Linked DNA regions of Homo sapiens: regions 1, 2, 3 and 4 are each reported to be linked to region 5. The links are microRNA targets in miRTarBase. Many come from high-throughput screens and were not tested one by one. Region 5 holds a microRNA gene; each other region holds the end of a gene's coding sequence.

Region 1 (5,715 bases), not on the chromosome of region 5:
CCCTATATTCAATCCTTCAGCAAATCATGCTGAGTCCACCTTCAAAATACATCTTGAACTCATTCATTCCTCTCCATCTTTATTGCCACCATTCTAGTCCAAGCCATCCTTTCTTGCTTGGACTTCCGAAATCGCTTCTTAACTGGTCTTCTCACTCACAGCCTTGCTTCCCTCCAATCCATTCTCCACACAGCAACTGAGTAATCTTATAAAAATCAAAGTCAGATTATATCGCTTTTCTGCTTAAAAACCTTCAATGCCTCCCCACAGCATTTAGAATAAAATTTAACTTCTTGTTCTGGCCCACATGGCCACATAAGACCTGGCTGTCTCTCTCCAATCTCATCTCATCCCACTCTCTCACCACACTCTGGCTACCCTCGCCTCCTTTCTGTTCACCAAGGCTTTCCCACTGCCACACTTCTGTGCTTGTTCTTCCCTCTGCCAGGAATGCTCTTCTCCCTCGTTCTTTCTCTCCTTTCTTTCTTTCTCTTCTTTCCAGGAATGCTCTTCTCCCTCGTTCTTTCTCTCCTTTCTTTCTCTTCTTTCTTTCTTTCTTTCTTTCTTTCCTTCCTTTCTTTCTTTCTTTCTTTCTTTCTTTCTTTCTTTCTTTCTTTCTTTCTTTCTTTCTTTCTTCCTTTTTCTTTCTTTCTTTCTTTCTTTCTTTCTTTCTTTCTTTCTTTCTTTCTTTCTCTTTTCCTTTCTTTCCTTTTTTTTCTTTCTTTCCTTTCTTTCCTTTCTTTCTCTCTCTCTCTTTCTTTCCTTTCTGTCCTTTCTTTCTTTTTTTTGACGGAGTCTCGCTCTGTCACCCAGGCTGGAGTGCAGTGGTGCAATCTCGGCTCACTGCAACCTCCGCCTCCCGGGTTCAAGGGATTCTCCTGCCTCAGCCTCCTGAGTAGCTGGGATTACAGGTGTGTGCTACCAGGCCCAGCTAATTTTTGCGTTTTTAGTAGAGACGGGGTTTCACCATGTTGGCCAGGCTGGTGTCAAATTTCTGACCAAGTGATCCGCCTGCCTTGGCCTCCCAAAGTGCTGGGATTACAGGCGTGAGCCACCGCGCCCAGCCCTTCTTTTTTTCTTTTTTTTTTTAGGGCAAGTCAAGTGAAGCAGTGGGAGTGGGAAGGAACAAAGAAATCTGTAGCTGATTGTGGTCAATTACTTGTAAACACCACTGCACTTTGACCAGCCCTCCCTGGTTCTTTGCATAGTTGGCTCATTCTCATCCTTCTGGTCTCATCTCAAATGTCACCTGTCAGAGTGGCCTTCTCTGGCTCCCTGATTTAAAATATTCCCCTGTGACTTCAGCCGGGGAGACAGAGGTTGCAGTAAGCTGAAATCGCGCCACTGCACTCCAGCCTAGGCGACAGAGCGAGACCTTGTCTCAAAACAAAAACCAAAAATAAAATATTCCCCTTACCTCCACATAATTCTCTAATAAAGCACCCTCTATATAAGCACCTTCATAACATCACAGTCCATGATTACCTAAATTATTTATTAGTTTACTTGTTTATTGACTGCCACTCTCACTAGAGTGTAAGCTCCTTGAAGGCAAGGACCTTATCTGCCTTTTGTGCCACTGTGTCTGTAGTGCCTAGCAGTTATTGAATAAATGCACAAAGCCACTTTTCTTGCTCTGACCCACTTTTGCTTGCTTCCATCTCTGTGATGCTGCAATGCCCTGCCTTTAACCTGCAATGCCTTCCTATTCGTGACCAATACATATCCCTTAACTTCTTTCAAAACTTAGTTCAAGACTCATGGCTGGGTGCGGTGGGTCATGCCTGTAATCCCAGCACTTTGGGAGGCTGAGGCAGGTGGATCACCTGAGGTCACGAGTTCAAGACCAGCCTGGCCAACATGGTGAAACCCCGTCTCTACCAAGAAAATACAAACATTAGCTGGGCATGGTGGCAGGCGCCTGTAGTCCCAGCCACTCAGGAGGCTGAGGCACGAGAATCACTTGAACCAGGAGGTGGAGGTTGCAGTAAGCCAAGATTGCATCTCTGCACTCCAGGCTGGGCAACAGAACGAGACTCTGTTTCAAAAAAAAAAAAAAAAAAAGACTCACAACCTCCCCAAATCCCTGTTGATCACTAGTCTCTCTCCCATGTGATGATCCCTTTAGTTTTTTATTCACTAAGTTTGTATAGAGCTTCTTGGCAATCTTATGAACAGTTCATACTACATTATCATGCCTTTGCTTGTATTTGCTTTGTAATCATAGTCATTTCATATATGTAGGTATGATTTGTTCCTCAAGACCATAAATTCCTCCTGAGTCAACATTGCATCACACATCTTTATAATCCTTCTCAAGTACTTAGTCCAGTGTGGTGCTCACTGTCAGCCATAAAGCAGAAAGGCAGAACTCTCTCTTCATAATCCAAAGAAAATGAAATTAGCTGGAAGTTTATTTTAGAAACAGAACAAGAGTTTTAGAGTTCTTCTGAAATTAGAAAAATCAGGCGTATTATTTTCCCCACTTAATTTAATGAAGAAAAAATCAAAACTGCAGCTCAGAAAACATTTCTGTGCATGACAACTGCAAGAGTTTAGCTATCTATTTAATAATACTTGTGGAAGGGCAGGGTGTGGTGGCTCACACCTGTAATCCCAGCACTTTGGGAGGCAGAGGTGGGCAGATCACCTAAGGTCAGGAGTTCGAGACCAGCCTGGCCAACATGGTGAAACCCTGTCTCTACTACAAATACAAAAATTAGCCAGGCATGGTGGCAGGCGCCTGTAATCCCAGCTACTCGGGAGGCTGAAGCTGGAGAACTGCTCGAACCCGGGAGGAGGTTCCAGTGAGCTGAGATCACGCCATTGGACTCCAGCCTGGGTGACAATTTTTTTTTTCAAATTAAAAAAAAAATTACTTGTGGAAGAATACACAAGATATTATCATGAAATAATGTGAGGTTAGGATTTTATAGTTAAAAAAGTAAAAAATATTTTTGCAGCTTTCAGAACTGTTTGAAAAGTTGTCTGTTTCAAGGAAAATAAAGAGTAATAAACATGAACTATTCACTTTGGGTAAAGAATCTGCCACCCTCCAAACTCTAACAGATTGAGCTACAGATGAGATTTCCATGTGTGTGTGTGTTAACTGCCATTCTCCATAAAACAGAATGCCGCAGCAGTTGGAAAAGTGAATTATTTTGGTATACTTAAATAGGATAAGGCTTTGAGAGTTTACAGATTTGGCCAATATGTATTTAACCATAGTTTTATAACTCAGACTAGCAATAAATGACCAACACATCATTTTTTCTTTGGAAAATAAATTTAATCGGAAAAAATACTTGCAACATACCGAAAATCTCTCTCTATGTATGAGTGTATGTGTGTGTATAAATTAACAATTTTATGTTAGATATTAATGCATTTTTAAATGCATAGATAGGTGCTATTTGACAAGTATAGTTATATAAACTTTACATAGAATCTCTAAAGTGGAACAATCCTGAGATTTGATTTTTAGAAAGTTTGATACAGATGATTAGGTTAAAGTGTTTATAGTCAGTTACATTTTTTTGAGTATGTGTGTCAAATGTTCCATTTGATCCTTTCTAGGCAACTGGGACATCTTTGAGAATAACTTGACTAAATAACTTATTTTCAGAGTAGGCTTGCAAAGCAAGTTAAAAAGGCAGAGAATTTAGGCCACTGAACTGTACATGACTTCAATCAGAAGGTCTTTGGGGGGATAATTAAGCAGTCATGGTATAAACTGTCTTTCTGAAACACAAGATTTTAAGCCTGGGATGCTTCAAATTTCAAAAAAGAAGGATGATTCTACTACAATGGTGATAGCTTTTAAATGTTCGCTATTTTCATTTAGATTCTGATAAGGCATAATTTACACTGTGGTGTGTGCACTCAGATGTCAGCAAAAATTTGAGTTCAAAAAAGATTGTACTGGGGCAGGGTGCAGCGGCTCACACCTCTAATCCTAGCGCTTTGGGAGGCCAAGGCAGGAGGATTGCATGAGCCCAGGAGTTCAAGACCAGCCTGGGCAACATAGCAAGACCTCCCCAAAAAATTAGCTAGGTGTGGTGGTGTGCACCTATGGTCCCAACTCTCTGGAGGCTGAAGCAGGAGGATGTCTTGAGCCCAGTAGTTAAAGGCTGCAGTGAGCTATGATTGTGTCATTGTACTCCAGTCTGGGTGACAGAGCAAGACCCTGTCTCTAAAAACAAAACAAAACAACAGATTGTATTGGAAAGTCTCAGGTCAAACTGAGTGAAACTAGGCTGACGTTGGTTTGTGCAAGCTTTGCATTGACTACAAGTGACCCAGTGGCTGACCTCACAACGTGGTATCCACTCAGCCACTTCAATTACCTGTTGCTTTGAGATGTCATGGCAATGCCCTTTCTTTGGTGTCATGTTTCTATTCAGAGCGTAAATTGTACATTTTATCACTGCTAGACTCTGGTTATAAAATCTCGTGGAATGCCATCATGATACACTCTTGTTGGGAAACCTTCTCATAGTGCAGGTGTTCACAGGGACATCAGTTTGGAGATCTGAGGTGGTGCATGGCCAAACCATCTCATTTCCCAGAGCAGCAGATAGCAGTAGCTTCTCATCCCTCCTCAGGTGCACAGTTATGAGGCTACATTTATCTGTGATTGCAACATGCTGTCAGTCAGTGCACTTCTAGTTCCATTCCATTTTATAGAGTTGGTTTTTTAGGCTTCGGTTTTCTCGTTTTGAAGAACTTCTTTAATTCTCGTAATTCCTGGGGCTGCAAACTCTGATCGACTCCTGGGGTCAATTTATAGCTCAGTGGAGACAGAATGTAACCATTTTGATAAAGACAGATTCTCTTGCAGAACTCAAAGGTGCTAAACATAATTCCAAAATATGGAACTATCTGTTAAAACCAAAAATGAAAATCAAGTTAAGTTCTTAAAAAGAAAACATCAATGTGTCTGCAGTCAACTTGGATCAGGGTAAATTATCTTGTAAAGTGAGATAATGGCGGTGGCAATACAAATGGTAACTCTTTTTGGAATCAGGAAAGATGGCAAAAGGAAAGCTGGCTCAGTGTGGGTTGGGAGAGGAATGACAGTGATTGAAGGGCATGACCTGCCTGGGAGGCACTAGATCTGGGTCATATGCACGCAGACTATCTGATACTACCTGTCACTATATGCTGGCCTTGACTGGAATCATTTACATGCCAGCTAGTGCAAGGTTAGTCCAGAGTGCTTAATGTTTTTTGTTTTTGTTTTTTTTTTTTTTTGTCATGGAGTTCTTTGGGAATATGATGCACATATGCATATACACATACATTTTTGCATAGAATTTTAGGATGAGGGGTTAGGTTCCCATTAGGGGCCCATGAACCTCCACATTAAGTATCTCTGCACTAAATGCTCAGCTCCTCTGGAATGGGGTATAAGATACTCCACCACTGCACAGGTTCCCCTCTCTACGGGGCTGACAGACAGTGTGCATTCATGGGCCTTGTGCTACCCATTAGTGCTAGAGGGGGTTTTCCAAGCAAACTGTAGTAGGGGTTGGGGGTGACAAAGGAAGAGGGTAGAATTGGAAGAGGCAGGGGAGCAGCGGAGGCTGGTGGCTCTTCTCACCTTCAGTAAATTGGCTGTCAATCCATTCCAGAGCCCCAGGACCCCCTGGGCCTTCACTATCTGCCGGAAGCAGTCCACTGCTCCTGAGAAATGGACATCTACTCCTCCACTGT
Region 2 (5,575 bases), not on the chromosome of region 5:
CTCTGAGACCGAGCCCAGCTCTAGAACTCAGATGGGCTCTGAGACCATGCCCAGCTCTAGAACTCAGATGGGCTCCGAGACCAAGCCCAGCTCTAGAACCCAGATGAGCTCTGAGACCATGCCCAGCTCTAGAACTCAGATGAGCTCTGAGACAGAGCCCAGTATTGAGACCAAGCCCTGTTCTAGAGTCCAGGCCAGCTCCGAGACCAAGCCCAGCTCTAGAACCCAGATAAGCTCTGAAACCAAGCCCAGCATAGAGACCAAGCCGTGTTCTAGAATTCAGGCCACATCTGAAGCCAAGCCCAGCTCTAGAACTCAGGTCAGCCCTGAGACCAAGCCCAGCTCTAGAACCCAGATAAGCTCTGAAACCAATCCCAGCATTGAGACCAAGCCCTGTTCTAGAACTCAGGCCACCTCTGAGGCCAAACCCAGCTCTAGAACCCAGATAAGATCTGAGACCAAGCCCTGCTCTGAAGCCCAGGCCAGCTCTGAGACGAAGCACATCTCTAGAATCCAGCTGAGCCCTGACAACAAGCCAAACTCTGGAACCCAGACACATTTTAAGACCCAGACCAGCTTGGAGACCAATCCCAGTTCCAGAATCCAGGCTAGCTCGGAGACCAAGCCCTGCTGGAAAACTCAAGCTGACTCTGGAACTCTGGACAGCTCCACGATGCAGCCACACCTGGACACTCGGTCTAGCTCCGGAACCCCAGTTAATTTTGGAACCCATGTGAGATTCATGAAGCAGCCCAGCTCTGGAACCCCAGTCAGCTCAGGATTCAGAGACAGCTCCCAAATCAAATCCTATTCAAGAACTCAGACCAGCTCAGAAACCCAGGTCCACACGGCTGCCCAGTCCAGATCCCAACCCCAGTTGCATCCAAGTGCCCATCCCCATCCTGCAGCCCAGTCCAGCTCCAGTGATGATTCCAGCTCTGAGACTGAGCCCAGCTCTAGAACCTCGCCTAGTGCTACAACCAGGCCCAACTCCAGGATTCAGACCAGCTCTGGAACCCCATCCATCTTGGAAGCAAGACCCAGCTCCAGCACACAGCTTGGTGCCAAGCCCCACTCTCCTTGCACAATGCAGCTCAGCTCTAGAATGCAGTTTACTTCCAGGACCCAGACCAATTTCAAGGCCTGGCCAAGCTCCAGAGCTCAATCCAGCCCAAGCACCGCACCCAGCTCTGGAACTCAGCTCAGTTCTGGAGCACAGGCTGGTTCTGAAATCCCAGCCAGCTCCAAAACACAGACAGCAGCTGAGACCCAGCCAAGTTCCAGAATCCAGCTAAGCTCTGGAGTCCAATCTAGTCCTGGGACCCAGGCCATCGCAGCAATAGAATTAAGCTCCACAGCCCTGTCTAGTTCCGACAGCAGGTCCAGCTCCAGGACCCAGCGCTGCCCAGGAGCTCGACCAGCCTCTGGGACTCAATTCGCCTCTAAAACCCTGCCAGGTTCTAGATACCAGCTCCAGACCACAGCCCCAGACAGCTCTGGTATTCAACTGGACTTTGGGAAGCAGAGCAGTTCTGAAAGTCAGCTTAGCTTTGGAACTCAGCCCAGCTCTGGGACCCAGATAAGCTCAAGAATTCAAGCCAGCTCTGGAAGTCAGCTTAGTTCGGGAACCCAGCTGATTTCCGGAGCCCAACCCAGCTCCAGAACTCAGACTAGTTCTGGAAACCAGCTCAGCTCCGGGACCCAGACCACTGCAAGAATTCAGCTCAGCCCTGGAGCTCATCTTAGCTCCAGAACCCAGTCCAGTCCTGAGACCAGGCTCAGCTCTGAGGCTCAGTCCAGCTCTGGAACCCAGTTCAGTTCTGGGATTCAGTTTGGCTCTGAAACCCAGACCGGCTCAAGAATTCAGCCCGACTCTGGAGCCCAACTTAGTTCCAGAACCCAGTCCAGCTCTGAGACCGGGCTCAGCTCTGAAACCCAGACCGGCTCAAGAATTCAGCCCAGCCCTGGAGCCCACCTTAGTTCTGGAACCCAGCCTGTTTCTGGAACCCAATCCAGTTCCAGAACTCACACCAGTTCAAGAATCTGGCTGAGCCCTGGAAATGGAATCTGCCCACAGACCCCTGGCCTTGACCCTAGAATCCAGCTTGAGGCCCCTGCCCCAGCCCAACCTCAGCCCCCAGGCCCATCCCCCAGAGACCCCACCCCAGCCCCTAGCAAAGACCCCCAGCCTCTGCCTCAGCCCCATGATCAGGTATGTGGCATCCAGGCCAGCCTTGGCCCCATCCCAGGCTTACCCCAAGCCTCCTACCTGGCCCCACAGTCACAGGTCTCCTCAACCCCCCAGAAGCCAGCCGTCTCTCCCAAGCCCCGGGTGGGACCCCAGAAGTCCACCCCACCCACCATATCTGTCACTCCTAGTCCTGCCCCTAGGGCAGCCCTCCTGAGTTCCCAGCTGTCTGAGTCCCCAGCTTTGGCGCCAGCCCTTTGCCCCACTCTGGGGGAGCCAGGAGCCCGCCCTTACCGCGGGGGGCCGTAGCTTGGCTGTGACTTAGCCCTGGTTCATGTGGTTCTCGTCCTCTCCTGTCCCTTCCAGCCTGGGGCCCCCAGAAGCAGCAAGTGACCTTATTTCTCCAGCAGGCGGTGGTAGGGAGTGTGCGGTGGTGAAAACAGGGGCTTCACCGGTCCTGGCTCAGATCCAGGTCCTTGGAGGGAAAAGGAGGGCAGGAGACGGGTTGCACCGCATGTACCCTGAGGGCTCATGGTGAATAAAGGCACCTTCCATCTCTGCAGCCTGGTGTGTCATTTTGGGGGAAGTTTGGGGGAATGCAGAGATGTGGGGCTGGGGGGCTGGCTGAAACTGTGGCAACACTGAATACCTCTTGAGCACCTACTGTGTACCAGGCACTTCATTAAGCACCGCACAGGCATGAGCTTACGTGCCTGCAGGCGACAGGTGCTCCACGAAGACCCAGCCACTGGTCCTTTCTACCAATATTTATTGAGCACGTACTATGTGCAAGGTGCTGTACAGAACACTGTGGTGTTTGAAAGGTTGCTGGGTGAACAAGTGAACAGTGGAGGAAACGGGCATCACTCCACGCTTTTGCATCTCTCTCTCTCTTTCTCTGTTTTATTTATTTACTTATTTACAGATGGAGTCTTACTCTGTCGCCCAGGCTGGAGTGCAGTGGCATGATCTCGGCTCACTGCAACCTCTGCCTCCTGGGTTCAACCAATTCTCCTGCCTCAGCCTTCTGAGTAGCTGGCATTACAGGCGCCCGCCACCATGCCTGGCTAATTTTTTGTTTGTTTGTTTGTTTGTTTGTTTGTTTTTTGAGACAGAGTTTTGCTCTTGTTGCCCAGGCTGGAGTGCAATGACGTGATCTCGGCTCACTGCAACCTCCACCTCCCGGGTTCAAGCTATTCTCTTGCTTCAGCCTCCCGCGTAGCTGGGATTACAGACATGCGCCACCACGCCCGGCTAATTTTTTTGTGTATTTTTAGTAGAGACGGGGTTTCTCCATGTTGGTCAGGCTGGTCTCTAACTCCCGACCTCAGGTGATCTGCCCGTCTCGACCTCCCAAAGTGCTGAGACTACAGGCGTGAGCCACCGCGCCCTGCAATTTTTGTATTTTTAGTAGAGACAGGGGTTCACCATGTTGGCCAGGCTGGTCTCGAACTTCTGGCCTCAAGTGACCCTCCCGCTTCGGCCTCCCAAAATGCTGGGATTACAGGCATGAACAATCGCGCCCGGCCCATTTATATCTACTTTTAATGACACACAGATTCAAAGGTGGTTTGATTGCAGGTTCCAGGGCTAACCTGTAGCCCTCCCATTACAGGCTGCTGGAAGAATTCTAGGTGGTACCACCCATCAAGTGATTAGGAAACACTCAAGAAACAAGGTGGGGGAGGAACCGAATCCTCTATGTCCCTCCCCATCCTTCCCAGCCCTGCCCTCGTCTGCTCCGGGTGAGGCCCAATGCACAAACTCCAGAGATTGAAAACTTCTGGACCCAAAGGAAAATAAAACCAAAGGCAGAGATATATTTTGGCAAGAAAAGGGGGTGCCCCCGTTCACATTCAATCCTTTCTGGACAGAGCCTTCCCTGTTGGAGGTTCAAAAGGAAGCAACTGTACCCCAGCAAGTAGGTCAAATTCAGGGTCAAAGAGCATGCAAGGCCGGGCGCAGTGGCTTACGCCTGTAATCCCAGCTGCTCGGGAGGCTGAGGCACGAGAATCGCTTGAACCCGGGAGGCGGAGGTTGCAGTGAGCCGAGATCGTGCCACTGTACTCCAGGCTGGGCCACAGAGTGAGACTCCGTCTAAAAAAAAAAAAAAAAATGGCCAGGTGTGGTGGTTCATGCCTGTGATCCCAGCACTTTGGGAGGCTGAGGCTGGTGAATCACCTGAGGTCAGGAGTTCAAGACCAGCCTGGCCAACACGGTGAAACCCCGTCTCTACTAAAAATACAAAAATTAGCCGGGCGTGGTGGCGCGCGCCTATAGTCCCAGCTACTCAGGAGGCTGAGGCAGGAGAATCGCTTGAACCCGGGAGGTGGAGGTTGCAGTGAGCTGAGATTGCGCCACTGCACTCCAGCCTGGGGGACAGAGCAAGACTCCGTCTAAAAAAAAAAATAGCAATGCAAGACCCTCTTCCAATGTCTGCATGCCCTTCCTGGGGTTGGGAGGGACGCAGAGAAGGGGTGGGAGCTCTGGATGGGAAAAAGGGGCCGAGGAAGGGAGAGTGCTTGGTAAAAGGATCAGGGAGGAGTTGGGGGTCCCCGGGTTGGATTGGGGTCAACCCAAAACCCTGCTGCTGATGCCCACTGTCCATCCAGCACCCCCAGCCCCTGAATCCTCAGAACAGGCAGATGGGCTGTCCGAGGGGCCAAGGGCTCCGCGGAAAGGCGCGGGAGGGGCGCTCTGTCCACTTCCTACTGCAGCCCGGAGCGCTGCGTGAGCTGGGGCTGGAGGGACAGCGACCTGGGCCGGGTGCTGAGGCGAGGCTGGAGACGCCGGAGCACGGCGCGGCGGAACAGGATATACACCCAGGGGTCCAGGATCTGGTTCCAGGTGGCCACGCGCAAGTAGATGAGCAGCTCCTTCTCCGTGGTGCGGGACAGCTGCCCGGCGGGGCTCATGGCAGGCGGGTTTCGCAGCACTGTCTGGGCGATGAAGACCTGCAAAGGGGAGAGCTGTCAGCCTGGGCCCCCGCCTCCAGCCCCGCCCGCCCCGGTCCCTGCCCGGGGTCCCTTGAGATCCAGGGTCCACTCCGTTTTTTAATTTTATTTTTGAGACAGGGTCTCACTCTGTCGTCCAGGCTGGAGTGCAGTGGTGCGATCTCAGCTCATTGCAACCTCTGCCTCCCGGGTTCAAGCAATTCTCCTCCCTCAGCCTTCCAAGTAGCTGGGATTACAGGTGGCTGCCACCACACCTGGCTAATTTTTGTATTTTTCGTAGAGATGGGGGTTTCACCATGTTGGCCAGGCTGGTCTCGAACTCCTGACCTCAGGTGATCCACCAGCCTCAGCCTCCCAGAGTGCTGGAATTACAGGAGTGAGCCACTGCGCCCGGCCAGTGTCCACTCTGTTACTGCATTGCTGGGTGACCTCA
Region 3 (5,628 bases), not on the chromosome of region 5:
TGATTTTAGAGATAGACAGGCTCTGTGTTGCCCTGGCTACAGTGCAGTGGCTGTTCACAGCTGTGATCATGGCACACCGCAGCCCCAAACTCAAGGTGGGCTCAAGCTGTCTTCCTATCTCAGCCTTCCTGGTAGCTAGGACCACAGGCACACTCCACCACACCCAGCTAGTTCTAGGTGTTTTGAGTAAGTTAGACACTTGGTGAGCTTTGTGTATAAAAGACTCAGTGACCTGCTTAGATTAAAACTAGGGCAGTGGAATGAAAAATTCTCATGGGAAGTGACAGTTTATTTTCTTCACTTACTGGTAAATGAAAGCCAAAAAGCTGAATTTTCCTAAGTAAACTAGAAAGAACATGGAGTGTGTGTGACTAACTAGGATGTTTGTGTTTACGTTTACAAAGATAACTTTCACCTACAGTGGTTGTAGATACAAGTAATAAAAATGAACAAGACCAGTATTCTAACGTGGTTACCTTCCAAGATTGGAAATTTAACCAGGCGTTGAAATGCTGAAAATTTCTGTTAGAAAAGATGGGCGAAGGAATTAATGGTGGATACTGAAACCACAGTTGGCTGTATGAGTTGAACTGTAACAGGCAATACCTGTTGTATGGCCAACATGATTACTCAGTTGCAGTGCACATGTTGGCTGGTTGGCATATGCTCTGTAAGCGCAGCTTGGCAGTCTTTAAGATCCATAGAAATACTCTTTGACGTTTGATCTCTAAGTTCCATTTCTGGGCATTTGTCCTTAAGGAATGGAAAAGCAGGCAAACTAAAGCTAGTCATTGCAGCAATAACCCACTGGAAACAACTGAAAATATAATGAGAGAATTGTAGAGTGCTGGATAAAATGTTGTGGGTCCACTCAAAATGATTCGAGTGTTGTAGTGTGGAAAATGCCCAAGCCAGGGGGGACACATTTAAAATGGTGGGTACACTCTGATTGTGATTATCAAATATATAGATGGACAAGGACAGGAGGGTTTTTTGAAAAGTAAAGACAGATGAGAAGTGTAATATAACCTAAGTCTTTAAAACGTAGAAACATTTAAAAATACAATTGCTTTGAATTTGAGTGGACTCATATAAAACAAGAATTGTCTGGATTTGCTGTCTTGCTGTTAAGGCAGGGTTCTTGAAAAGAGCTGTGTGTCCACTGCCTCAATCACTCCTCACAGTCCTGCTGCTTCTCTCTTTGCTGAAAATGCTTTAGGGGTGGAATGTCTGTTCTTAACCACTGTGGGTGGCTTCATAAATCACCTCCTTACTGAAGTGTGCTTGTTAGGCCTATTGGTTATCAAATGGGGCACAGTGTAGCTGCCTCTTAAAAAGTTGTGAGGAATGAGTTAGAACTGGATCTGAAGTCCTCAGGTAATAGGCATGGCTATGACTGGGTGACTTTAAGCATTGTTGCTTCTCAACTTGCTTTGTATCCTCAGCAGTCAAACCAGGTGCTCTTGGCTCCATTCAGACTCTTGGGTTCTGCTCTTGACCATTTTGCAAAGAGTTCTGAACCTTCATGGGCAAGGTCAAGCACCCTGTGACTGGGGGAGAACCTTTGAACCTGGAGTGTGGGCCTGGGTTCGCCCCGGATCCCTGTCCATTGCTTGCTGTGGGCCTTGGTTTCTTTATCTGTAAAATGGAGGTAATGCCTGGATTACAAGGCTGCTATAAGGATGAGAGGGGACAATGAGGGTACTTTTTAATGAAAGCATTCTTGTCACCACCAGGGAACCATAGTCAGGATTTGGGGGCATGTAGGTGTCATTCCACAGCCACTTACCAAGCAGCCCTCTCTTAGCTTGGTGCTGGGACTCATTGCCTCTCCAATGGAATTTTCCAAGTGTGTTGAGGGCTGTCTTGCTCCTTACCTACTTGATTCTCTTGCAGATCTTACTGTGCCGAGATCGCTCACAATGTTTCCTCCAAGAACCGCAAAGCCATCGTGGAAAGAGCTGCCCAACTGGCCATCAGAGTCACCAACCCCAATGCCAGGCTGCGCAGTGAAGAAAATGAGTAGGCAGCTCATGTGCACGTTTTCTGTTTAAATAAATGTAAAAACTGCCATCTGGCATCTTCCTTCCTTGATTTTAAGTCTTCAGCTTCTTGGCCAACTTAGTTTGCCACAGAGATTGTTCTTTTGCTTAAGCCCCTTTGGAATCTCCCATTTGGAGGGGATTTGTAAAGGACACTCAGTCCTTGAACAGGGGAATGTGGCCTCAAGTGCACAGACTAGCCTTAGTCATCTCCAGTTGAGGCTGGGTATGAGGGGTACAGACTTGGCCCTCACACCAGGTAGGTTCTGAGACACTTGAAGAAGCTTGTGGCTCCCAAGCCACAAGTAGTCATTCTTAGCCTTGCTTTTGTAAAGTTAGGTGACAAGTTATTCCATGTGATGCTTGTGAGAATTGAGAAAATATGCATGGAAATATCCAGATGAATTTCTTACACAGATTCTTACGGGATGCCTAAATTGCATCCTGTAACTTCTGTCCAAAAAGAACAGGATGATGTACAAATTGCTCTTCCAGGTAATCCACCACGGTTAACTGGAAAAGCACTTTCAGTCTCCTATAACCCTCCCACCAGCTGCTGCTTCAGGTATAATGTTACAGCAGTTTGCCAAGGCGGGGACCTAACTGGTGACAATTGAGCCTCTTGACTGGTACTCAGAATTTAGTGACACGTGGTCCTGATTTTTTTTGGAGACGGGGTCTTGCTCTCACCCAGGCTGGGAGTGCAGTGGCACACTGACTACAGCCTTGACCTCCCCAGGCTCAGGTGATCTTCCCACCTCAGCCTTCCAAGTAGCTGGGACTACAGATGCACACCTCCAAACCTGGGTAGTTTTTGAAGTTTTTTTGTAGAGGTGGTCTAGCCATGTTGCCTAGGCTCCCGAACTCCTGAGCTCAAGCAATCCTGCTTCAGCCTCCCAAAGTACTGGGATTACAGGCATCTTCTGTAGTATATAGGTCATGAGGGATATGGGATGTGGTACTTATGAGACAGAAATGCTTACAGGATGTTTTTCTGTAACCATCCTGGTCAACTTAGCAGAAATGCTGCGCTGGGTATAATAAAGCTTTTCTACTTCTAGTCTAGACAGGAATCTTACAGATTGTCTCCTGTTCAAAACCTAGTCATAAATATTTATAATGCAAACTGGTCATTTTTGGGATTTTGTTTTTGAGACTCATTCTGTCACCCCGGCTGGAGTGCAGTGGCTTGATCTTGGCTCCCTGCAACTTCTGCCTCCTGGGTTCAGGCGATTCGATTAACAATTGGAGACGAGTCGTGCAGAGGAAAGAAGTAACTTAGAATCTAATCTTTATTAACCTGGGATATCACAGAAAATACTTGGGCCTGCCACTTGTATTTCTTTGTCCTCAATACTGAACACTAGACACATTTGAAACCTTCCTCAGAAGGAAACAAACCAACTGGTTATGCCTGGGTGGTGGCATGGAAGATGCCCATTGTTGCCCAATTTGCTAATAAGTATTTTGAAATTAGAAATGAAACATGAGGTCCAAGCCTGTCCAGTTCCCTACCCAACCCATTCCTCCTCCCTGGAAAAAAGAAACCCGTATCATCTTCCAAATTTCTGATTCATCACTGCCACTTAAAAATGAACCGTTTTGAATTTTAAAATGTGAATAACTCAAGTATCTTTTCTTTTGAGATGCCCGGCCTGAGCACTAACTTCAGGCATTGCTGAATGCAGTGAAGAAACCAGAGTGGTGTCTGCTGCCTCCTGATCTTTTACAGCTGACAGCACAGCCTATTTCTAAATACTACTAGTTTGTGAGGCAGAGACACCCTCTGAAGGAACCAGACAGACTATGGAGGGGTACAGTGTGAAGTCACTGGAAAACTTCCTCACCCTATTTCTTTGGATGACTGTCCTGAGTTAAGGAAGGGGCCCAACTGTTGGCAGCCTCACAGCTTGGGCTGGGGGCCTTTGAGTTGGGTCCCTGGAGAAGGCACTGTAAGCCCTGACCAGGAGCGACAGGGCCCCCAGTGAGATGGTGGAAGGGCAAAAGTAGAGACCTGCGATGGTGGGATGGGGAGGCCTCGGACTTGGGTGGGCTCCTTTCTCTTAAGCGAGGGCCCACCTTGGTGCTGAGGGGACTAGCTGAGCTCCATTGAGTCTGTGCTGGGGGCTGAAGCGGAATCCTTCTGGATGCTTTCAAAGAGGGCAGCAAGTTCAGGGTTGGATCTGATTTGGGAAGAGAAGTCGGCCATGATGGGGCTTTTCCCCACCTCGGGGATGGTCAGCAGGGCAGCCACTGCCCTCATTGCAGAGCGCTTCAGTTCATCTTGCTTTTCAAACTCCTGCTTCACAGAACCAGCTTTGACCTAAAGTAGGAAACAGCAGAAGCAGCCATCCTTTATTGAGCCTGGCCCACACCACTGCCTCCTCACTGGTCTTTGGCTTCCTCTCTGCCCCATCATCTTCCCCAACATAAATCCCTGCTGCGAGGTCTCCTGAGGCTTCTGTCTCACCAGCTATTTCCTAACTCCACCTCTGGGCTTTTGCACTGGCTAGTTTCCCCACAGAGGTTCTTTGCCATTCAAATCAGCTTGAGTACAGCCTGAGGGGCCTCTGAGCAGCCAATCTGAAGTGCTCGCTTTTTGTTAATTGACAGTGGCAAGTACTGTGTTCCCATACTTACCTCCTACAGACTGCAGGGATCCAGCCTATATTTGCTGTGCTTAAAACCAGCTCTTAGCACCATATGACTAGACTGAATGAATGGATCACTGCGATGGTCTTCTAGCAGCCTCCTCCCCATACTCAAGTCCCTGCCCCGCAATCAGTTTTGCAGATGCAGCCGGAGTGTAAGCACCCCAAACTACCTCCTGCAGTTTCTGTTTCCTCTTCCCCCACCATCTCCTACCTAGGCAGAGGAGCTCAGTAATTCCTCCACTGCTTATGGACTAAAGTTCAAGTTCCTTATTATGCTGGGCTCTTCCTAAAGAATTCAATGCAGTGGGTAACAGCTTGGCATTGGAGTTGCAGAGTCCTGTGTTCAAATGGCTCTGCCCCCAAGAGCTGTGACTTCAGGTAACTACATCTTTGAGCCTCATTTCCCCATCTATAAGTAAGAGCTGCCTCGTCGTAAGAGTTGCCAAGAGGATTAAACGACACAAGTCCACACTCCCTTCTCTGAAACCCCTGGAGCCAGATGTGCTTTGGAATCCAAGACATTTTGGGTTTTAGAAAGGTAATACTGTGCAGATAACATTCCCGAGGGGTTTTGTACAATACCCTGTAATCAAATACATGAATACTCTACTACATGTATGAGTAATGTGAGTAGTACAGGTGTCCCTCAGTATCCATGGGAGTTTGGTTCCAGGATCCCAGGGGATGCCAAAATCCTCAGATGATCAAGTCCCTTATATAAAAGTGGTACATTGGTAAGAATTAAAGATCATAGCCTCATGCCACTTCAAGTCAAGTTGTGTGACAAACAGGTTCCTAAAAAGCTTTTGGTTGTCAGAGCTTGGTAGATTTCAGGGTCATGGGTAAGGACTGTGGGTGTGGATTTACCCATGCTCATCCCAATGCCCAACAGACAGCATCCTCCGCGTGGCCAGATGAGTGGCTCTTGTGGA
Region 4 (5,715 bases), not on the chromosome of region 5:
AAGCAGTCTGAGCACGGCGCCTGGGCTCCTGGGGACAAGCCAGCCCCGTCCTGCATGGCACATATCAGGAAGACCCGGCTCCATCTAGCACAGAACCCAGACCCTGTCTCCCTGCTGAAGAAGATGATTCCCTTATGAGTCAGGGCTGCTGGATTGAGGGTGATGCGCCCCCTGGCAGTCCTCACTGGCCTCTTCCAGGCTGGAAGTGTCCGTATTTAGTGCTCCCCCACTGTGGCCTGGGCTCTGAGTGCAGAATCCAGCACCTCCTTCCCACCCCTCGGGTGTAGGCAGCAGTTGACGAGAAATTCAAGGGTGGACGCGCCAGCCTCAGACTCAGGAGAAGAATCAGAATCTGACCCCCGCAATGGCCTCAAGAGCCCAGAAAGACAGGGCGTTTCAGCCCCATTTCTCAGACCTGGAACCTGAGTGTAGGTGGAAGCCTAGGTTTGAACCCGGGTCTTTGTGGGGGAACTGAGGATTCCCTCCAGCCCTAGCAGCAGCTGGGTCCCCACAGTCACTCCAGCCTGCTTCTCAGTGACTCGTGCCGAGCAGCCCTCATGGCTGAGGGAGCCGGGGAGGTCCCTGCCCTCGCCAGGTCATGCTGACGTGCATCAGTGACACAGCCCTTGGCCCGAGGCTTCTCCTTGGTGCTCCTGACATCTGGAGCTGACATCTAGGGCCAGACTGGTCTCTGGGGTCCAGGCACTGTAGGGTGCTGAGCAGCATCTCATGTGCTGGCCCCTCCCCCAGTCATGACAGCTGGAATGTCCCCAGACATTGCCAGCATACCCAGGGGACAGAGTCGCCCGGCGGGCATGCCTGGTCCGACACATGGATGCGAGCGATGGAGCCAGGGCTAAGCAGTGCCTTTTGTCCCCACCCCATCCCCCAGTGACAGGAGAGTCCCCCCCCAGCCTCTCTAAAGAACTGACCAGCTCTCTGGCCGGGGTCGGCGACGTCAGCTTCGACTCCGACAGCCAGTTTCCCCTGGACGAACTCAAGATCGACCCCCTGACCCTCGACGGACTGCACATGCTCAACGACCCCGACATGGTTCTGGCCGACCCAGCCACCGAGGACACCTTCCGGATGGACCGCCTGTGAGCGGGCACGCCGGCACCCTGCCGCTCAGCCGTCCCGACGGCGCCTCCCCAGCCCGGGGACGGCCGTGCTCCGTCCCTCGCCAACGGCCGAGCTTGTGATTCTGAGCTTGCAATGCCGCCAAGCGCCCCCCGCCAGCCCGCCCCCGGTTGTCCACCTCCCGCGAAGCCCAATCGCGAGGCCGCGAGCCGGGCCGTCCACCCACCCGCCCGCCCAGGGCTGGGCTGGGATCGGAGGCCGTGAGCCTCCCGCCCCTGCAGACCCTCCCTGCACTGGCTCCCTCGCCCCCAGCCCCGGGGCCTGAGCCGTCCCCTGTAAGATGCGGGAAGTGTCAGCTCCCGGCGTGGCGGGCAGGCTCAGGGGAGGGGCGCGCATGGTCCGCCAGGGCTGTGGGCCGTGGCGCATTTTCCGACTGTTTGTCCAGCTCTCACTGCCTTCCTTGGTTCCCGGTCCCCCAGCCCATCCGCCATCCCCAGCCCGTGGTCAGGTAGAGAGTGAGCCCCACGCCGCCCCAGGGAGGAGGCGCCAGAGCGCGGGGCAGACGCAAAGTGAAATAAACACTATTTTGACGGCTGTCTTTTATATTTCTGAGCACACACAGAGCCCTGGCGTCCACCGGGGCAGGCGCAAAGTGGACAGAGCATGCAGGGCGGCGGACCCCCCCACGACCCTCCTCGCCCTGTCTCCATCCCCTCGAAGCCCTGCCTCACCGCAGGCAGGCCCATCGGTGGCCACCTTTGCCGGGAAGTGACCGGAAGGCCCCGTGAGGGGTCGAACGCGGAGGCAGGGGTTACCTCTTGGGGCTTTACAATCCGTGGCCCCTCCTGTCCTGCACTGTGGTCACCGGTCCTGTCATAGATGCTGTTAATTTAAGGTACAGGCAGAGGTGGCCAGGGGAGTTTCATTGTGGTTTTTTTTTCCTTTTAGTTTCTAGTTACATTTTGGTTGTAGATGACTCGCTTAATCTTTTAAGCCAACACTTGCCTGAGAGCATGTTTTTATTTCAGAAATCCAACTTTACCTATTTTTTAAGCTAACTGGAAATGGAGGCCATGCGCCCCAAAGCAGCCCGCCACCCACCTGAGTGTAAGAAGTGAGTCCGGCTTTTGGGTTTCACCCCAAGTTATCTCAAAACAAAAGGGCTGGTCAGGCTGGGCAGGGCCTTGTCAGGAGCTCACGGTAGGCAGAGGTGCCTCTGCCAGGGCCACAGAACAGACTTCCGGGAAGGGGCCTTGGCTTTTATTGAGGGTCTCTCAAAGACCCAGCCTGCCAGCCTCTCCCAGAGGTGCCTGCTAGTCCTTAGAGTGTGTGTGTGAAGATGCCATGACCAGTGGCAGCTGAGACCTCTCTGCCCCAAGAGTGTGGGGGACTGGCAGGGAGCGAGGGTCCCCGAGACGAGGACCACGGTCCTCCCTGAGAACCTGGGTGGAACTGGCATTTCATCCCCTCTCCACCCTACCCTCTGGCTCCTAGCCCACACCCCCTCTCTTGGGCAGCGTGGTCTGCTGGCTGCCCCTTCTTGGCAGCTCAGGGTCGTGGCAGGTGGACTTGGAGACACACAGCAGTGTGTGTTTTAGTGGCAGGTTTCAGGAGCACCTCTAAGACCAGGGTGACAGGGTACTTGGGAGCTGTCCTGGACCCTCCCCATACCACGGGCCCTGCAAGGGAGGCATCAGGGCTGGCTTTGTTTTCTGCTGTTCTTGGAATAGGAACTGCTGTTCTGATCCCCCCAAAACTGCATTGCGGCTCTCGCTCGCTCCTGCCTGCCGGGACAGCGCCTTCTGCTGAGTCCGTTTATTTGTAGTGTCATGGCTGCTGCTTTCACTGGGGTCCTGGGCACCCTGGCTTCTGTCCTCAGAGCTGGGTTTGATCCTAGCAACCATCCCTTCCTCTCTTTGCCCGGCAATGCCTTTGGCATGTGTCTGAGCAGCCAAGTGGCCACTCATAGGAGAAGGCTCCCTGGTCACGTTGCTCCTGCTGCCGTCTTGTTCCAAGGTGCGGGGGGGACACTGTTGGTCTGTCCAGGTCAAGGTCCCTTTCTCTTACCATGACAGAGGCTGGGGGCAGACAGCGGGGACTTTTTTTTTTTTTTAAGAAAAACTACATGTACATAGGAGAGTTTCATTACCATTAGACTTGTATGTAGGACTTAAAAAAAAATGGCCTTAATAAAATTACAAGCAACCCGCCTGGATGCGGTTTTCAAAAGAAGGCATTGAGGACCATGCTAGGAAACCTCATACCCCATCCGTCCAACCTCCGGCGGGCGCCACTGCTTGTCCTCTGGTCTTCGGTGTGGACAGATAGGAGAGGAGGGATGCCCACCTCGGAGCATCCCAGGCCCGTGGCCCATTTTCAGCATCCTGAAGCCAGATTCACAGTGACATTGTGTTAACGTGACGACCTTGGTCCATTATGGAGTTCTTTTTCCAATAAGAACCTGGTGGACCGAGGTCCGAGCTTGCCAGGGACAGTGGGGCCCACGCGAGTACCCGGGGCCCAGCCAGGAGCCAGCAGCCAGGCGTCCCTGTGTTCCAGAAGGATTCACGCCCCTCCTGGACCTGGGCGGGCCTCCCAGGGGGTCTGTATCACGGCCTTTTGTGTGTGCGTACGTGTGGTTTTTTTAAATATCACTACTACATATTCTTGAATTGCCAAGACTTTCTGAAACAAGACAGCTTAAGGGAATCAGCCTTTTGCTTTGTGATGTGAAAATACTGTGATTTGACGAGCCGCTTCCTGAGGGGCAGGCCCACGTGGGGAGGTTGCGCCGTGTACATAGACCCGCCGTCTGTGTCCTTGGTCAGGCCCGGATGCTTGGTCTACACTGGGTTAGAGGCTGCTCTCCCCACGCACCCATGTGCTCATGGCTTCTGCAGACCCTCTGCTGGGTACATCGGTCCCCTACGGCGAAGTTCAGCCAGGGCTCTCCCTCCTGAGAGCATGGCGTCCCCACCTTCCTGTTTCGCCGACGTCACTACCCAGGGTGGCAAGTCTTGCAGGCAGAGGGTGTAGCCCAAGTTCAGCCTCTCTCTGTGTCCTCCAGAGAAGAGGGTTCTTTGCCCTCATCAGGGCCCTGCTTGTGGGTTTTCGGCTCTGGGGAGGAGAGTGTTGGCATCAGTGTGTTTGGCCTGATTTCTTCAGGGGGCCAAGCTCCCGGGAGGACCCCTAGCCAGGAGGGCCCCCCATGTCCATCCATCCCTCCTGCTGGGGCTTGGATGTCAGGCTTGGGGGCTGTGAGCTGGGACCTCGCCTGAGCCCGGTCAGGTGGGACAGGAGCCTGCCAGAAGCCCATGGGGGGCCAGGCCGGGTGGCTTCTATTTTATTTTTTTAGAGATGGGGTCTTGCTGTGTTGCCCAGGCTGGTCTCGGACTCCTGGGCTCAAGCAGTCCTCCCTCCTCGGCCTCCCAAAGTTCTGGGGCTACAGGTGTGAGCCACTTCTGCCCAGCATCCCAGGCCTGAACAGCCTTGGCAGGACCCGTCCCTAGAGGGGGCTCTGGTGCCTCCCTTAGGTGGGCCTTGAGCTGGTTTTTAACCAAACATCCTTCCAAACTCGGGCTGCGACCTGCTTCCTGAGTTTTCTGTATTTCCAAGGAGCCCTCCGACCAGGGAGAGGCTGGTGGAGTAAGGTCCAGCGGTATTCGGGGGTCCTCTGTCACCTCGCCCTGAAAACAGCAGCTCCCATCACCTTCACTGGGTCCCGATGGAGCCGTCTCAGAGGCCGAGGGGCCCTCTGTGTGGGGGTGGGACGCAGGGGCTCTCAGAGCAAGGGCCACAAAGCCGATGGCACAGATGTGCCCCTGGGCCTGGCCCGTCACCCACATGTGGTGCCCTGGGCCAGGGCGTGCGGGCGCCAGAGCCTTCCCTACACAGCCTAAGAGCAGGGGCAAGACTCGGCCCCTCACTCACCCTGGGAGGCCTGCCTGGGCTACATGGACACCTGGGTCTCTTTCTACCCCCATTCACCATGGACCAGGGGCCTCCATTTCCTGGGGGCTCTTGCGGCATGTGATTTGGGGGTCCCTGGGACATTCTCCCGTCAGCTCCACCTGAGCCAAGTGTCCTGTTCCCTGCGGCCCTTGGCCTTCCAGGGTCCTGGCCAGGCAGGGGTCAGGCACCCCATACTCTTCCGTGTGGCACAGGTGTCCACCCACCCCCACTGGCCACAGACACCATTCTCCCCCTGGGAGCAGGAGGTGGAGTAAGTTGTACCCCCAGGCCTGGGTGCTGGGGAGTTCCTGAGGGCATGGGTGGGGCAGGAGTGAGTGCCTCGTGATCCCAGCCTCAGTTTCTCTCTTGTCACTTTCTCAAACCTGCAGGTCTCAGGGCCCCGGGCTCCTCCTGGGCAGGATGGGGGGCAGGGGCTGGGCCTTGGGGTGGTGCTGGCTCTGATGATTCCAGAGCCTGTATCCACCTTCTGGGCTCCTGGCCAGCACCCCACCCCCAGGAGCCAGGGACAGGTGGCATGTGTTGGGGTCGGGGGATGGCCCCCATCTCGAAGTGTTCTGGAATTTGGGGGCAACCCTTGCCCAGCCCAGCCATCAAGAACTTCTGATCTCCTGCCCACCAGGAGGGGACTTAGCCATGGACTTGGCCAGTAGGCCTGGGGAGGGA
Region 5 (5,715 bases):
GGCCCAGAATGGTTAGGTAACTTGTCTAAATTCAGGCTGCAAATAAAAGCCAAATCCACAATTTGAACCCCAGCCGATCTGACTCCAAAGGGTCCCTGAGAAAAGTCATGCTTGGTCTCTGAGATGGGGAGGGATGCATGGGCACAGGTGGGATGAGACTTGGTGGTGGGGTGGGAGAGGAATCAGGGCAGGTCCAAGGCCAGGGCAGAGGTGGGAACGCCACAGAGGACCAAAGGGAGTGTATGGGAAGGGAGTGAGGTATGAGACAAACTCTACCTCCTTCACACTCAGGTGACACACCTGTGTCACTCAGGACTGGTCCTACTGGCTCCCTGAACTTCATCCTAACCCACTTTGGAGCCTCTGAGAGCCTAAGATGTATGAGACCATCAACACATCCAAGAATCATAGAATCTTGGAATGATCGAATCTTAGAACCACAACATTGGACAATTCTAGAAGCTTTGTGTTCTAAGGAAAGACAGGTTCTTAGAAACATGGAATTCTCAAAATCCTGAACCTTAGAATCCTAGAATTTTGGAGTCTTCAAATGTTGAAATCATGGATTCATAAAGTATCTATGCAGAAAATCTTTGAAGATCATAGCTTACCCCCTCCCCTTATTTTGCAGATGGGAAACTGAGGCTCAGAGAAAGGAGGATGAGTCTCTGAATGTCACACAGTGAACTTGTGGCTTAAAGAACTAAAACTGTTTTCACCAGCCATGTTCAAGGGTTGGGGCTAGTGCCAGCACTGCAGGAACTGAGGCGGCCTGTCGCCGTCTGGCAGTTCTTCCTCCTGCTTGGTTCTGGCATGGCCTTGGGCACTCATCTCACTTGAGGAAGAGAGAGCTCCAGGCCATGCCACCCTTCCTTGTGCCTGTCACCTTCTAGGGTATGGTGGGGTGGGGATTGTGGCCACTGGAGGCCTCCTGCCAGGCCCCCCACATTCTCAGCCTCTGCCAGGTCTGTTGGTGGGGGGAAGGGGCCTCCTGCCTGGGCATTGGCTGAGACACTCTTTCTGTCTTCATGCTCTGAGCAGGCGGTGAGGTGAAGGGGGTGCCAACTGGCACAGAGACCTGGGCTACAGGGCTGCCCCAAGGAAGGGAGGACAGGGCTTCTTCAGCAACAGGCTGAGACCTAAGGTGGTGGCAGTGTTGCAATCACCCCCTCCCTGGTGGGAGGAGGGGACTGAGGAAGAAAGACATTATTCACTCCTTGGAGAGTTGGGCTGGCTCTGACCAGCACCCCAGCTGGGCCCGTGTCCCACCCTCTCTGCCAGTAGAGGCTGAGAGATAAACACAGCTCATTTGATACGGGCCAGCCGGGCCTTGCTGGCTTGCTGGGAATGTGAGAGGCGAACTTTAATCGCTCCTCCACTTTGCGGAGTTGGGAAGGGAATGGCGAGGGAACTAAGCCATGTGTTCCTACTCTCAGCGACCCTCGAAGCACAGACTGAAGGCATCGTGACAGCAGTCTCAAATCTTTGTTCTAGGAGGCCCAAGAGGGCAGAGCAGGAGCAATATGAGGAACCCGAGAGAGGCCAACTCCAGCTCCTTACAAAGAAAACCTTCTGATGGTTAGGAATGGCCCATGAGCTCCTGTTTCCTGGAGGCGTGTGTCAGGCAGGGGCTGCACGCCAGCCCAGCCCCCAGTGCTGAGAGGGAATTCCTGCACTGAATGTGAGCTCCCCGCTCACCCCACCCAACTCATTACTGCTTTCAATGCTCTGCGATTCTGTTTCAAAGTCTAAGAGAATGTGATTTAGGAAGTGTAAGAACCCATGTTTCTAAGACGCTTGACTCTGGAAAATGAGAAGGAGGCATGAGAGGCAGCTTCTCCATTTTAGACCAACAGGGGACTAAGAGAATAAGCTAGGGAGTCGGGGATGGTGGCTGGTGGGGCAGAGAGAGAAGAAGGCCTTTAGGCCCTGGAATTGTGTAAAAAGCCACAGGAGATGAGAGATGAGGTGAAGAGAAAGGAGCTCTGCTTTGGAGGCGGGAGTCCTGGGCTGAAATCCTAGCGGAGGACTTTAGGCAAGTGGCATAGTCTCTGTGAGCCTTCTCATAATTGTGGTAACAGTCCAAAGCCACTGCAAGACGGATACTGTCATCTATTCCAGAAGATGACAATGTCCATTTTGCAGTGGCTTTGTGATTGTTACCACAATTATCATAATAATAGCATTCAACTAAGGGTCAGAAACTGGACTGGGTAAACACTTTACAAGCGTTATCTAATTTAATGGTCAAAACAATAATGTTAATGAGATAATTAACTTCTATAAGGGGTTCGGCAAAGAGAAGATAGTCAATAATGTTGGTTCCCTTCTCCATATTTCAATCTCATTTAATTCAACAAACCTTTACTGGCACTTAGCTTGTGCTGAGCCTCCCAGTTCCTCCTGAAAAGAGCTCAGGCAATGGAGTGTTTTTCCCTGCTGGCGTGAAGATCGCTAGGTACCTGCGTAGAGGAGGGTTGGTGAGGATAGGGCGGGAGGCAGAGGGGCAGGGCACAAGGCTGCAGTGCTGGGCTGGGAGGTCTGACCCAGGGCTGGAGGTGAGTGGGTAGGAGGTGGGAGCAGGAGTGGATCAGTGGGTTATGGGAGGTGAGAAAGGCAGAGGTTTCAGGAATGCAGGATTGTAGGAGAGATAGCCAACCCATGGAACAAACGATTTTAGTAATTCTTAGAAGCATTCATCCAGATATTGACAACTGATGTGCGATTGCAAAAAAGTCCATTGGTGTGCCAATCACAAATCACAGTAGTAGCAACGACCATTTTTAAGGATACTTGAAAGTCAGTTTCCTAACAACCTTCTCATCACGGCTCACCAAAATATAAGGACATAGTACAGTGTGAAAGCAAGAAAGCTCCCAGAGCCATGGCCTCAGGCCCCATCCCTGCCAATCCTCCTCTACACAGGTGCCTGGTGATCTTCACACCAGGAGGACTTTGTTCAAAAGGTGGGCTACAGGACCCAGAGAATGTGTACACGTGTGTGTGTGTGTGTGTGTGTGTGTGTGTGTGTGTGTGTGTACAGGGGAGGGGGATGGGAGAGGAGAGAGGGGTGGGAAGGGAGGGAAGGGTGAGGTGATGTACTAAATAAGCCAAATGGGACAAATAAAAAGGAAACAAGCATGATTGTGAGGGCAGAGGAGCGTGGGACTGAGTCAGGAGACTGGTGCTGTCATCGCTGCCTGGTGACTGACTTGCTGTGTGGCCCTCAGGTGTAACTTACCCTCTCTGGGCCTCATTTGTCTAATCATAATAATTAACGCTGATACCATGATATAAATCTGTACAGCATTTCACTGCTTGATTCCCTAACTGCCCTGTGAGATAAGCGTTAAGGCTCAGAGACAGTGGCATGCCCAGTGTTGCACAGTAAGTGTGTGGTAAAGCCGAGATTCAAACTCAGACCTTCTGGCCCCTTGCCTAGGAGAGCATGCCCAGTTGTCTAGCAGATTCTCTTTTGCCTGAGTGGCCCAGATGACATCTCTTTTAGAGCTAGAAAGAAGGAGAAATGAGACAGGGTCTTTGGGCTGGAGCCTCCTGGGACTAACATGGCACTGGTCGGTTTGCCAGGCCCAGACATGTTCTGCCTTTTCCATGGGAAGAGATACTCCCCCGGCGAGAGCTGGCACCCCTACTTGGAGCCACAAGGCCTGATGTACTGCCTGCGCTGTACCTGCTCAGAGGTAGGTTCCTCTGGCCACCTGACCACCTGTGTCAGGGATGTCTGAGAACCCTCCAGAGAAGTCACCCCAGAAGGAGGACCAGGCCTTCTAGAACTGTGCTGTCAGCGGCAGCTGAGAGACTTGGGACAAGCCACTTCACTACTGACTACTCAATATATAGGATTAGATGGCTACTGTGTACCTCCCAAAGATAAGTCACACAAACATTAGTGGCTGGGTTGGGATGAGGGCCCTGGTCTCCCATCTCACATCCCAGCCTTCTTTCCACCTCGTGCTGGTGCCAGCCTCCCTGCCTCCCACGCAGCCCAAGACAGAGCCTTTTTGACCTTATCTCCCATTCCCTTCTTTTCACGTACTATTTCCTCCAGCCACTTTGGCCCTGCCTTAGGATGTGTTCCCCCACCTCCACTAGCCCAACTACTTGTTCCTCAAGGATTTGCTCAAATGGGAAAATGACCTCCACCTGGAAGGATTTTCTTCTTCTGGGATCCCACATAAGTTTCTCTGCCCCTTTCTCCTGATCATTGTTGACCAGGCAACATAGTTACTGCCCCTCCTAGACTGAACCTCTGAGGCTAGGACTTGCTGGGCCCTCACTCACACCTGGCATGATTCCCTGCCAAAGGCTGAGCCACCTGGGGTAGAGACCATGTTTTTGTTTTCCATCTCCTCCCACCCCATCGCACCCCATGACAATCCAGCACCTCCACAGGGCCTTGTAAAATCAACTGGGTAGAATAAATGAGACCCCCATGTGGTCCAGAATTCACAAGTAAGGTATGAGATTGGAGGGGCGGAAGAGGAGGAAGTGGCTTAGGAGGCCTGAAAAACCCTTGGCTTTAGCTCAGCTGCCTGGAGCCCAGTGTGGATGTCCCCAGCTTTCTTTGTCTGGGTGTTGGTGCTTGGAGGGAGGGGTAGCTAGCTCCCAGCCCGAGCCAGCCTCCCAGCCCCACTCTTTCCCTGCACAGAGCCAAGAGAGGAATGCAGAAGGCCTCTAAGAGTCTCCCTTGTTAAAACAGAACCCTCTGGGGTGGGAGCAGACAGAGCTCTGGAGGAGATCCTGTGGGGTGGCGGAGAGGGTGGCTAGCCCCCCTCCTGACTTTGACACTGGGGTCTCACTCCTCCTGGGGTCTTTCCTCCTGACTCACCACTGCTTCTACCGTGTTGGCCCCAAGTAGAAATGGGGACACAACCCCCACCATGACTGCCTCCCCTCGGTTTGCCTTAGCACATCTGAGGCCAATCAGCCTTTTCAAGAAGGACTTTATGAAATATAGCCAGAGAACAGAAAGGAAATCATAACAGAAAATTCCAGACATATCATGTGGTCCAGTTGACAAAGTCCAAGTTTTTTGAGCCATTGGAGTTAATTCATTTCTCCTTTCACAGAGTTCACATACAGTTTCCTCAACCCAGAGGACTTTTGCTGGTATCTGCAAAATATACCCTCAATCCCTCCACTTCTCTCCACCATCACTGCTCCCCCTAATCCAAGCCACCATCATCTGTCATCTCTTTCCTGGGCTGCCACACAAGCCTCCTAACAGGTCTTCCTGTTTCCCCCCCTAAATCCATCCTCCACGCGGCAGTGAGAATGGTTTTTTTTTTTTGTTTGTTTGTTTGTTTGAGACAGGGTCTCGCTCTGGCACCCAGGCTGGAGTGCAGTGGTGCGATCTCAGCTCACTGCAGCCTTGACTTCCCAGGCTCAGACAATCCTCCCACCTCAGCCACCTGAGTAGCTGGGACCACAGGTGTGTGCCACCATGCCCAGCTAATTTTTGTTATTTTTTGTAGAGACAGGATTTCATCAGGTTGCCCAGGTTGGTCTCAAACTCCTGAGCTCGAGAAACCCACCTGCCTCAGCCTCCCAAAGTGCTGGGATTACAGGAGTGAGCCACTGTGCCCTGTGAGAATGGTCTTTTCTCAGCATGAAACTGATCATGTCATTCTGCTCTTAAAACCCTCCAGTAACAGATGATGAACTCATTGACAGACATACAGAGACTGTGTGCTG

Evidence for each region. The annotated mature microRNA hsa-miR-4696 reads UGCAAGACGGAUACUGUCAUCU and lies in region 5 at 2,093-2,114, shown strand. An mRNA with a match to its seed (bases 2 to 7 or 8) in the 3' UTR can be bound and repressed. Matches are read on the target gene's strand: a 7mer-m8 pairs with bases 2 to 8, a 7mer-A1 pairs with bases 2 to 7 and ends in A, and an 8mer does both.
Region 1: miRTarBase lists SLC25A43 as a target of hsa-miR-4696. Seed matches in the 3' UTR shown: 7mer-m8 at 4,179-4,185 and 7mer-m8 at 4,027-4,033.
Region 2: miRTarBase lists TBXA2R as a target of hsa-miR-4696. Seed matches in the 3' UTR shown: 8mer at 4,604-4,611 and 7mer-m8 at 4,573-4,579.
Region 3: miRTarBase lists RPL32 as a target of hsa-miR-4696. Seed matches in the 3' UTR shown: 7mer-m8 at 2,720-2,726.
Region 4: miRTarBase lists CRTC1 as a target of hsa-miR-4696. Seed matches in the 3' UTR shown: 8mer at 4,095-4,102 and 7mer-m8 at 4,443-4,449.

The regions. Positions count from the first base shown.
Region 1 is chrX:119,452,031-119,457,745 of GRCh38, reverse strand. It overlaps SLC25A43 (solute carrier family 25 member 43), which reads right to left. Exons shown (of 5, transcript NM_145305.3): 4 at 5,603-5,715; 5 at 3,268-4,881. The coding sequence ends at 4,681. It also overlaps the pseudogene RNY3P16. Among named protein-coding and RNA genes, the nearest start is that of SLC25A5, 14 kb to the left of the region's middle. RefSeq lists a silencer at 1,086-1,380.
Region 2 is chr19:3,590,792-3,596,366 of GRCh38, forward strand. It overlaps TBXA2R (thromboxane A2 receptor), which reads right to left. Exons shown (of 3, transcript NM_001060.6): 3 at 3,716-5,142. The coding sequence ends at 4,897. GIPC3 (GIPC PDZ domain containing family member 3) reads left to right here. Exons shown (of 6, transcript NM_133261.3): 6 at 1-2,750. Among named protein-coding and RNA genes, the nearest start is that of GIPC3, 8.1 kb to the left of the region's middle.
Region 3 is chr3:12,832,492-12,838,119 of GRCh38, reverse strand. It overlaps RPL32 (ribosomal protein L32), which reads left to right. Exons shown (of 4, transcript NM_000994.4): 4 at 1,897-3,635. The coding sequence ends at 2,026. CAND2 (cullin associated and neddylation dissociated 2 (putative)) reads right to left here. Exons shown (of 15, transcript NM_001162499.2): 15 at 3,317-4,365. The coding sequence ends at 4,138. Among named protein-coding and RNA genes, the nearest start is that of SNORA7A, 5.1 kb to the left of the region's middle.
Region 4 is chr19:18,776,279-18,781,993 of GRCh38, forward strand. It overlaps CRTC1 (CREB regulated transcription coactivator 1), which reads left to right. Exons shown (of 14, transcript NM_015321.3): 14 at 893-5,715. The coding sequence ends at 1,104. Among named protein-coding and RNA genes, the nearest start is that of COMP, 12 kb to the right of the region's middle.
Region 5 is chr11:74,716,706-74,722,420 of GRCh38, reverse strand. It overlaps MIR4696 (microRNA 4696), which reads left to right and starts at 2,084; the gene lies at 2,084-2,153. CHRDL2 (chordin like 2) reads left to right here. Exons shown (of 11, transcript NM_001278473.3): 2 at 3,589-3,701. LOC124900308 (small nucleolar RNA SNORD43) reads left to right here and starts at 5,672; the gene lies at 5,672-5,715.